3 separate regions of the Homo sapiens genome follow, and all the other regions are linked to region 1. Evidence: fine-mapped expression QTL. A gene starts in region 1. Each other region holds a variant in brackets. All regions are shown on one strand. Distances are from middle to middle.

Region 1 (2,763 bases):
GACTGGAAAAAAACTCTTAAATTACATCTGTGTCTTGCATTATATTTCTGTTGGACATCGCTGCTATAGACATGTTTTTAACAGCTGAAACAACTCTTGGCGTCTGAGAAATGTTTGTGTGTGTCTGGGTTGGAGGGGACGGCTGTACACAGCAACAGTTACCTAGTTACCTGCTGGTTGAGGTCAGCGCCCGTTTGCAGCTGCCAGAGAAGAAAGCAAGCAAGGCCGCTTCCTGCGGCTAAGTGGACAGGCGACTGCTTGCAGGGATCCGGGGGTGCGTTGACCGAGGCCCCTGTCTCCAGCAAATGCTTCAGACCATCCACCTGCAGGAAGAGAACAGATCCAGCACCCTTCCCACCTTTGTCCAGTCCCGCGCCCCTCCGGGCTGGAAACCTCCCCGCCCTTCACAACCAGCTCTGACCAGGCAGCGCCCAGTGGTCCGTCCCCGCATTAACGAGAAGACGAATCTAGAAGCTTGAGCCTGCAGGACAAAAGCTCGGGCTCTGTGAGCCCGAATCTCACCTCGGGGTTGCAATCCAGCAACAGCATTTCCCGCCTAAGGCAGATGACAAGAGTCCTTGGAAGTGCAGAGAGGTGAGACACTCGCCGCACCCCGACAGGTAAGAATGCGCAGGCTGGCCCTAGCACGGGAGAATTTAAAGACCGCTGGGACTTCCGGGCCGGCCCTTGGCAGCCGCGCCCCAGCTCCGGTTACGCCCGAGCAGCCTAATCCTCAACGACCCGGACCCTGTCCAGCCCCGCCACGGCCGCACGTACACAAACACTGGCACGTGGAGCCCGGCGCCGGGGGCAGGGGGAGGGGGCGGGCGCGCGAGGCCATCCGCCGATTGGCCAGCTGTGGATGCGTCAGGCCCTCCCACCTCGGGGCGGGGCCCGCGGCGGCCCCACGGAGCCTCAGCGCGCGTGCGCAGGGTAAGTCAGTGGGCGTGAGAGGACTGGAGTAGGAGCGGGTGGGGCTCCGCGGCCGCCATGAGGCGCGCTGAGTTTGACACGTCTCCCGGTAGTGCGCCCGCCCTTTAATCCTTACGGAGAAGCGGGAGTTTCGGCTGCAGGTTTTGGCTCTGCCGGCGCGCACGTAACCAGGAAACTGGGAGCCACGCGCAGCTCCCCGTCGACGCCGCCTTCAGAAGCCGCTGTGCACTGCGCTGCTGCCGCCTCGGCGCCGGGGAACGCAAGTTCCTTTACCTCGCGCGCAGTCGCCCGCCTCCCAACCCGGGAGGTGAAGGCGGGGACGGCGAGCGCGAACTCGAGGGGATGGCTGTCCCGAGTGGCAACGGCCGAGCCCGGCCCGCGCAGGGACCCTTGTGGAGGGGCCCTCGGGGAGAGGCCGCAGCACGCTGGGGTCGTCACGCTGGTCCACGCCGGGCTCTCCTCCCGGGAGAGCGGACCCGGCCGCGTGCGATTCGGACCCGCGGGGCTGGTGAAGCCGCTGTCCGGCCCCGCGGGTGCTGTCGGGCGTGCGTCACTGCTTTTTGTAGAACATGACCTGACTTCCGATGGCAGCTACTGACGTCAGAGCTGCTCCCTAGACTCTCCCTAAGCGTCTTTCCAGAAGGATCTGCTTAGAAACCAAAGCTCCAGCCGAGTGTTTCTTTTCCCCTACATTTTTAGTGATTCCCTTCTGTTGATGCCTTTGAAAGCTCGGAGAAATAAATACGTTTATTGTTATGCTGTTAGAAAACAAGTTCATGCTTGTCCTCTAAAGATAAGTGGTCTTTTCATTCTACTTTTTGTTTTGTAGTAAGAGCCATAAAATTTGCAATCGCAAGTTTATGTTGTTATACTTAGTTACCCAAGGGGTAGTTTTAAGCATTTTTATTCATATGAATATTTGAATATAAATGTGTGTTCAAATATATAGAATCGTTCTTATATTCCACATTTTTAATATTTAAACTATTCACAATATCTTTTAATGATGTTTAAAGAACGGCAGTGTAGAGATACTGTTGTCAGATTTGTGAGGTGAGCACACGTTGATATTGCCAGTTTCGCTTTTGTTTATCAATTCAATAAGCACTGCTTTTTAAAACACGTGTTGAAGCTTCAGGTTTGCACAGAAGTTCATTTTCAGGAATTCCTAACTAATAAAGGGTATCAGACACGTTCTTACAGTTTTGAACATAAATACTGCAGTTAGCATATGTAGTGGGATATTTGTGTGGTGAAAGTGCCTCCATATTTCATATCTTTTCTTTGAAACAAGATTCTGTTCAGTATGCATTAAGTGGTAGTTATTTTTTAACTTCCTGTTACATACGTAAATTTCATAAGGAAAGGAAATTTGGGGAGTCGTTACAGCTTTTCTCCCTTTAATCACAGCGTACCTGTCCATTGCTCACATTGTTTTCAGAAAAAAAAGTTGTATCTCAGCTGGATATCTGACTTGACTTTAGTAATGGGCCTAGAAACTATAAACTGAACAAAGCTTATAATGCACAAAAACAGGATAAGTACATTTGGGGGACAATATCTTACTGGCAAGTAACTGGAGTTTCACCAGGCGTGTAGCAGGTGGGATCAATTTTCTAAAACGGAAGATGATCTAAGATGCATATTTTATAGGCGTTCTCCTAAGCAGTGCTAATTCTACATGTTTTAATTGCTGGTAGATGCGTTTCCAGAACGAGGATGCCATTTACAGCGAGTGTTAAAAAAAACGTTGGATGATGAGTAAGTGACCGAATAGATGAGAGATGTGTGGGCTGAATCTTGAGTAGTAAGAGTTTGCTAAGGAGTCCA
Region 2 (2,763 bases), 48 kb after region 1:
GGAGTAGTGAGATGTTCTCCCCCATCTTGATGTCCTTCACTCATCTACTCTCTAACATTTTACAAAATAGCAGGATATACTAATGGTTAAGTCCCAAACTTAATACAATCAGCATATTAATAGGGAAATCATTACAGATGTAAATCTTTGGCCTTAAATTATATTCAAATGAAGGAAAACAACTCAAACAATTCAACAGCAAAACACACACACACACAATAATCCCATTAAAAAGTGGGCAAAGGACTTGAATAGACACAAATGAAAACATAAAAATGGAAAACAGGTATATGAAAAAATGATCAACCTCATGAATAGGGAAATATAAGTCAAAGCCAGGAGATACCATCTCACACCAGACAAAAGAAAAGAAGTGTTGGCAAGGATATGAAAGAAAAGGGAACCCTTGTACACTGTTGGTGGGATTGTAAATTAGTACAGTCATTATGAAAAAGGGTATGGAGGCTCCTCAAAAAATTAAAAATAGAGCTACCATAAGATCCAGCAATGTCAGTACTGGATATACATCCAAAGGAAATGAAATCAGTATGTCAAAGATATATCTGCATTCCCATTTAAAGCAGCACTATTTATAATAAAGAGGCAAGACATGGCATCAACTTAGGCGTCCAACAGATGACTGGATAGAGAAAACGTGGTATACATACATCAAGCTTGTCCAACCCACAGCCCGCGGGCTACATGCAGCCCAATGCAAATTTGTGAACTTTCTTAAAACATTATGAGAATTTTTTGTGATTTTTTTTAAGCTCATCAGCTGTCGTTAGGGTTAGTGTATTTTATGTGTGGCCCAAGACAATCCTTCTTCTTCCATTGTGGACCAGGGAAGCCAAAAGATCGAACCCCCCGATATACATGATGGAATATTATTCAGCCATAAAGAAGAATGAAATCCTGTCAATTGCAACAACATGAATGAACCTGGAGGACATAAGTTGAGTGAAACAGACTAGGTACAGAAAGACAAATACTGCATGATCCCACTCATCTGTATAATCTGAAAAAAAATTGATATATTAGAGGTACAGAGAGGTGGTTACCAGAGACTGGGGAGGAAAGGATGGGAGAGATTGGTCAGTGGCTAGAAAGTTACAATTTAACAGGAGGAAAAAGTTCTGGTGTTCTGTTGCTCAGTAGGGTGACTATGGCTAACAGTAAAGTATTATATATCAAAAAGGAGCTAGAAGAAAGGTTTTTTAATGTTCTCACCACGAAGAAATGATAAATGTGGCTGGGCACAGTGGCGCACACCTGTAATCCCAGCACTCTGGGAGGCCGAGGCAGATTGGTCACCTGAGGTCAGGAGTTCGAGACCTGCCTGTCCAACATGATGAAACCCCGTCTCTACTAAAGATACAAAAATTAA[C/A]CAGGTGTGGTGGCATGAGCCTGTCTGTAATCCCAGCTACTTGGGGGGCTGAGGCAGGAGAACTGCTTGAACCCAGGTGGCGGAGGTTGCAGTGAGCTGAGATTGCACCACTGCACTCCAGCCTGGACAAGAGAGCAAGAGTCTGTCTCAAAAAAAAAAATAAAGAAATGATATACATGTATCAAAATGCCAAACTGTACCTCATAAATATGTACAAGTGCAATGTCAATTTAAAGAATTCTTTAAAGGATACAAATATTCAGAACATTTTTTTTCAGTCTCAGAATGTCTAGCTTCTACTGCAGAGGCAAAACATGTTTTATGAGGCAAAGTTCCATGCCTCTGAGAACTTCAGGGCTTTAAGATCCAAAGTGTGATTAACAATTATACTCTGAATATAGATGGTGCAGCAAAGGAAAAAAAAGTGGTTGTTATTGAGGACAGTACACCTTTGGCCTTATTATTTAAAAACAGACTGATAGAAAATAATAAAGTGTTTAAAGGAAATTAAGAAAATATCTTCAGGGCCTTGGAGTAGGCCAAGATTTCTTAATAGGTGCAAAAGGCATTAACCATAAGATAAAAAAAATGATAAAGTGGGCTAAATTAAAATTGAGAACATCTGTTCATTAAAAGCAATCATTAAGTAAAAGGCAATCCATAGAAAGGGGGACAATATTTGTAGCACGTAAGATCTGACAAGGAACTCAGATCCAGAACATGGACAAACCCATAAAACATTATGGAAAGGATGAGCAGCAGCACAATAGAAAAGGAGACACAACAAATGGCCGGGCACAGTGGCTCACGCCTGTAGTCCCAGCACTTTGGGAGGTCGAGGTGGGCAGATCATCTGAGGTTGGGAGTTTGAGACCAACCTGACCAACACGGAGAAACCCCGTCTCTACTAAAAATACAAAAATTAGCCAGGCGTGGTGGCAGGCGCCTGTAATCCCAGCTACTTGGGAGGCTTAGGCAGGAGAATCACTTGAACCCGGGAGGCAGAGGTTACGGTGAGCCAAGATCGCGCCATTGCACTCCAGCCTGGGCAACAAGAGCGAAACTCCGTCTCAAAACAAAACAAAACAAAACAAAACAAAAGAAAACAAAAAAAAACACCAAACCCCCCAAACACAATGAGATACTACTACACCCAAAATGGCTAAGAATAAAAACGCAAAAGATAAGTGTTGGTGAGGATGTGGAGCAATCAGAACCCTTACACACTGCTGGGGAGAGTATAAAACTGCTGTGACCATGAAGAAAAATGGAGAAATCCTAATCTCTGGGCATCAGCCGACAGATATTTGTCAAAAGACAAGTACTAGACGTTTATATAAGCACCCTTTGTAAAAGCCTCAGAGTGGAAAGGAGCC
Region 3 (2,763 bases), 22 kb after region 1:
TTGTGTCTGATGGATTTGGGGGTGGAGGGTACAGATCTGTTCTTGCTAGTGGTTAGAATATCTTCTATGCTTTCCTTGTGACCACGTAGCAGATGTCGTATTAGTGCATAAGATTTGTATATTAGATACAAACTATGAGCACACAGTAAAAGTATGCTTGAATGGAAGACGGTGTTTGTTAGGGGCTCGCAAGTGTATCGTAAGAATTATAAATGTGAAAGCTGTTCCTGGCCATTCTTCCACTTTAGCCAGTTCTAAGAACTGTGCTGATTCAGGATAAGGGTTATTAGATGGGAGGGAGGAGAGAAAAAAGGAAGCCCATATCGAGACTTAAATCAACTCAGGCAGCTGTAAAAGGAAGGAAATTTCTTATATCCCAGAGCTCCTGGGAGTGCCTGAGTAGGAGATGTACTTTTAGAGATTCTTTTCCTCCTTATCGCTTGCCCTGCAGAATCCAGGACAATTGTACCCCTTGGGCACAGATTCATAGTATTATACATCGTGTCAGAGGGCGGACACTTCACAGCCTTATTGGGAGAAAGAAATTCAGTTTGGGTAAAACTAAAAACTAGGGTTTTTTTGCTCTTTCTTTTGTCGAAGGAGAAAGGGGTGGACTATATGAAGAAAATTCTTGATTCTCCATGTCCCAAAGCAAGACACTTAAAATTTGCAGCTGCTTACAACCTCGGAAGAGCTTATTATGAAGGAAAAGGTGTTAAACGATCAAATGAGGAAGCTGAAAGGTAATCCTACCTGAGAACAAGATTAGGTTTGAAGGAAATGCTGAAACCGAGAATAACATGCCTCACTTTCTCTTGTAGACTGTGGCTTATCGCAGCAGACAATGGAAATCCCAAAGCTAGTGTGAAGGCTCAAAGTATGCTCGGGCTGTATTACTCAACCAAGGAGCCCAAGGAGTTAGAAAAGGTAACGTTCCCTCTTTTTTAATGCTAGTGTTATATTTAGATTAATATTTGTTTCACTGCTTTTTTTGAGAAAATGGTGGGGAATGTCGTTTTAAATATCTCTTATAGTTCCTTTAAATGTAAAGAAAGCATACATTTTAGGATCTCAAAGCCCTTTTATTTATAAATGTCCCCTTCCCTACCTCTACCGAAGGAAACCATGAATGTGAGAGTATTTTGTATACTATAGTATCAAAGCTAAAAGAAGAGAAACAGTCCTGAAATTACAGCCAAAATCCTTCTAAGCATGAACAGATGAATATTACCGTTGACTTGAGAAATTGATACTAATAAGTAAAATATACCAAGAATTAGTTACAAATAAAATCCATCTAAGATTTTCACAGAAATATAATCTCTTTCATCAATGGTTGAAACAGTTTCCAAAAAATCCTATAAGGAGAAGGAAATGGGGGCTGAGTCCTACTTGTGAGAGAGGAGTTAATGGCAAATTTGCAAGAGACACATAACAACTAAGGCCATCTTTGGATAGATAAGCAGCCATCTGGAATTTTTTAAATGAATTCAAATTCACTGTAGCAGAGTATGAGGCAAATGTGCTTGAGCCTACATACAGCGTTTATCCTGGGTTGTCTTTGATCGCAGCAGCTGCTATCTCTAGAATCCACCGGGAGCTCGAACTCTCCCTTAGCATCAGTGGT[T/C]TCCCCTCCTCTGCTGTGCCTCACGCCTTTCAGACACTGAGTTCCTATTTGGCATCTTCCTGATCCTTACTCTGAAGATCCCCAAATCCTGAAACCTAGGACAGCTGGTCTTCCTCTGCCATAAGCTGCCTGGACTGTGATCTCACCTGCACTGTGGACAGACAGCGGAGGAACTCGCCTCCACACTGTGTTAGGCATGTGTGCTAGTGTGAAATGCGTCCAAAGGCCTACCGCTCTTTCCTAGAGATGATTAATAGTGCTATCTAGGAAACACAGAGTTCTTTTCTGTCTAGTATTCCCTTATAATTTCATCTAGTGGATCACAAATACAATGATGAAACTGTGCTTTTCTTAGGCATTTTACTGGCATTCCGAAGCATGTGGCAATGGGAATCTGGAGTCCCAGGGTGCACTTGGGCTCATGTACTTGTATGGACAAGGCATCCGGCAGGATACGGAAGCTGCCCTGCAGTGCTTAAGAGAAGCAGCAGAACGCGGAAACGTCTATGCTCAAGGGAATCTCGTGGAGTATTACTATAAGATGAAATTTTTTACAAAGTGTGTTGCATTTTCCAAAAGGTGAATGTCTTTGTCTGTTCTGTGCTGCTGTAACAGAATATCACACACTAGGTAATTTATGAGAAACAGAAATTTATTTCTCACAGTTCCAGAGGCCAGGAGAGGGCTGCAACCTCCAGAGGGGAGGACCATCATGTCCTCACGTGACAGCAGAAAGCTACAGGAAACCTCTTTTATAAAAAGGGCTTTAGTCCTATTCATGAGGGAGGTGCTCTCATGGCCTCGTCGCCTCTTAAGAGCCCCACCTCTTGATACGATCACACTAGCAACACTGGGATTTCCAAGGGAACTTACTAGTCAAACCATAGCAGTAATGTTTGAATAAACTGGATGAAAGTATTGATAAGAATGCCTACTACATGTTCTATGCCAAATCCTTCACAGAGCTTTCTGCAGTATTAGAAATGATAGCTATTGAGCACTTGAAATGTGTCTAATGCAACTTAGCACTAAACTTTTAAATTTTACTTAATGTAAATATTCATATGGCTGGTGGTTACCATACTGGATAGCACAATTCTATGCCATTAGCCTTCAGGATTTCAGTGCTACTAGCT

Direction of the effects. Positions count from the first base shown, and alleles are read on the strand shown. Sizes are in standard deviations (SD) of each study's normalised expression. Not every link is listed here.
In carriers of allele T in region 3, the expression in sun-exposed skin of the gene that starts at base 1,549 in region 1 tends to be lower than with C alone (small effect, 0.20 SD a copy in GTEx).

Evidence for each region. PIP is the estimated chance that this variant, and not a neighbour inherited with it, causes the effect.
Region 2: its variant is the best candidate, but not a certain one, in a credible set for the expression of LRP2BP in caudate (GTEx, PIP 0.59).
Region 3: its variant is the best candidate, but not a certain one, in a credible set for the expression of LRP2BP in sun-exposed skin (GTEx, PIP 0.78).

What each region holds. Positions count from the first base shown.
Region 1 is chr4:185,394,710-185,397,472 of GRCh38, reverse strand. It overlaps LRP2BP (LRP2 binding protein), which reads left to right and starts at 1,549. Exons shown (of 9, transcript NM_001377440.1): 1 at 1,549-2,694. ANKRD37 (ankyrin repeat domain 37) reads right to left here and starts at 632. Exons shown (of 5, transcript NM_181726.4): 1 at 523-632; 2 at 171-323. The coding sequence starts at 549. RefSeq lists silencers at 647-1,016, 1,237-1,426 and an enhancer at 1,047-1,116.
Region 2 is chr4:185,347,184-185,349,946 of GRCh38, reverse strand. All of the region lies in intron 13 of SNX25 (sorting nexin 25), which reads right to left. Among named protein-coding and RNA genes, the nearest start is that of LRP2BP, 47 kb to the left of the region's middle. The variant C/A (reference allele first, on the strand shown) is at 1,388.
Region 3 is chr4:185,372,299-185,375,061 of GRCh38, reverse strand. It overlaps LRP2BP (LRP2 binding protein), which reads left to right. Exons shown (of 9, transcript NM_001377440.1): 5 at 601-743; 6 at 822-927; 7 at 1,983-2,206. It also overlaps a transcript of SNX25 not described here. Among named protein-coding and RNA genes, the nearest start is that of LRP2BP, 22 kb to the left of the region's middle. The variant T/C (reference allele first, on the strand shown) is at 1,628.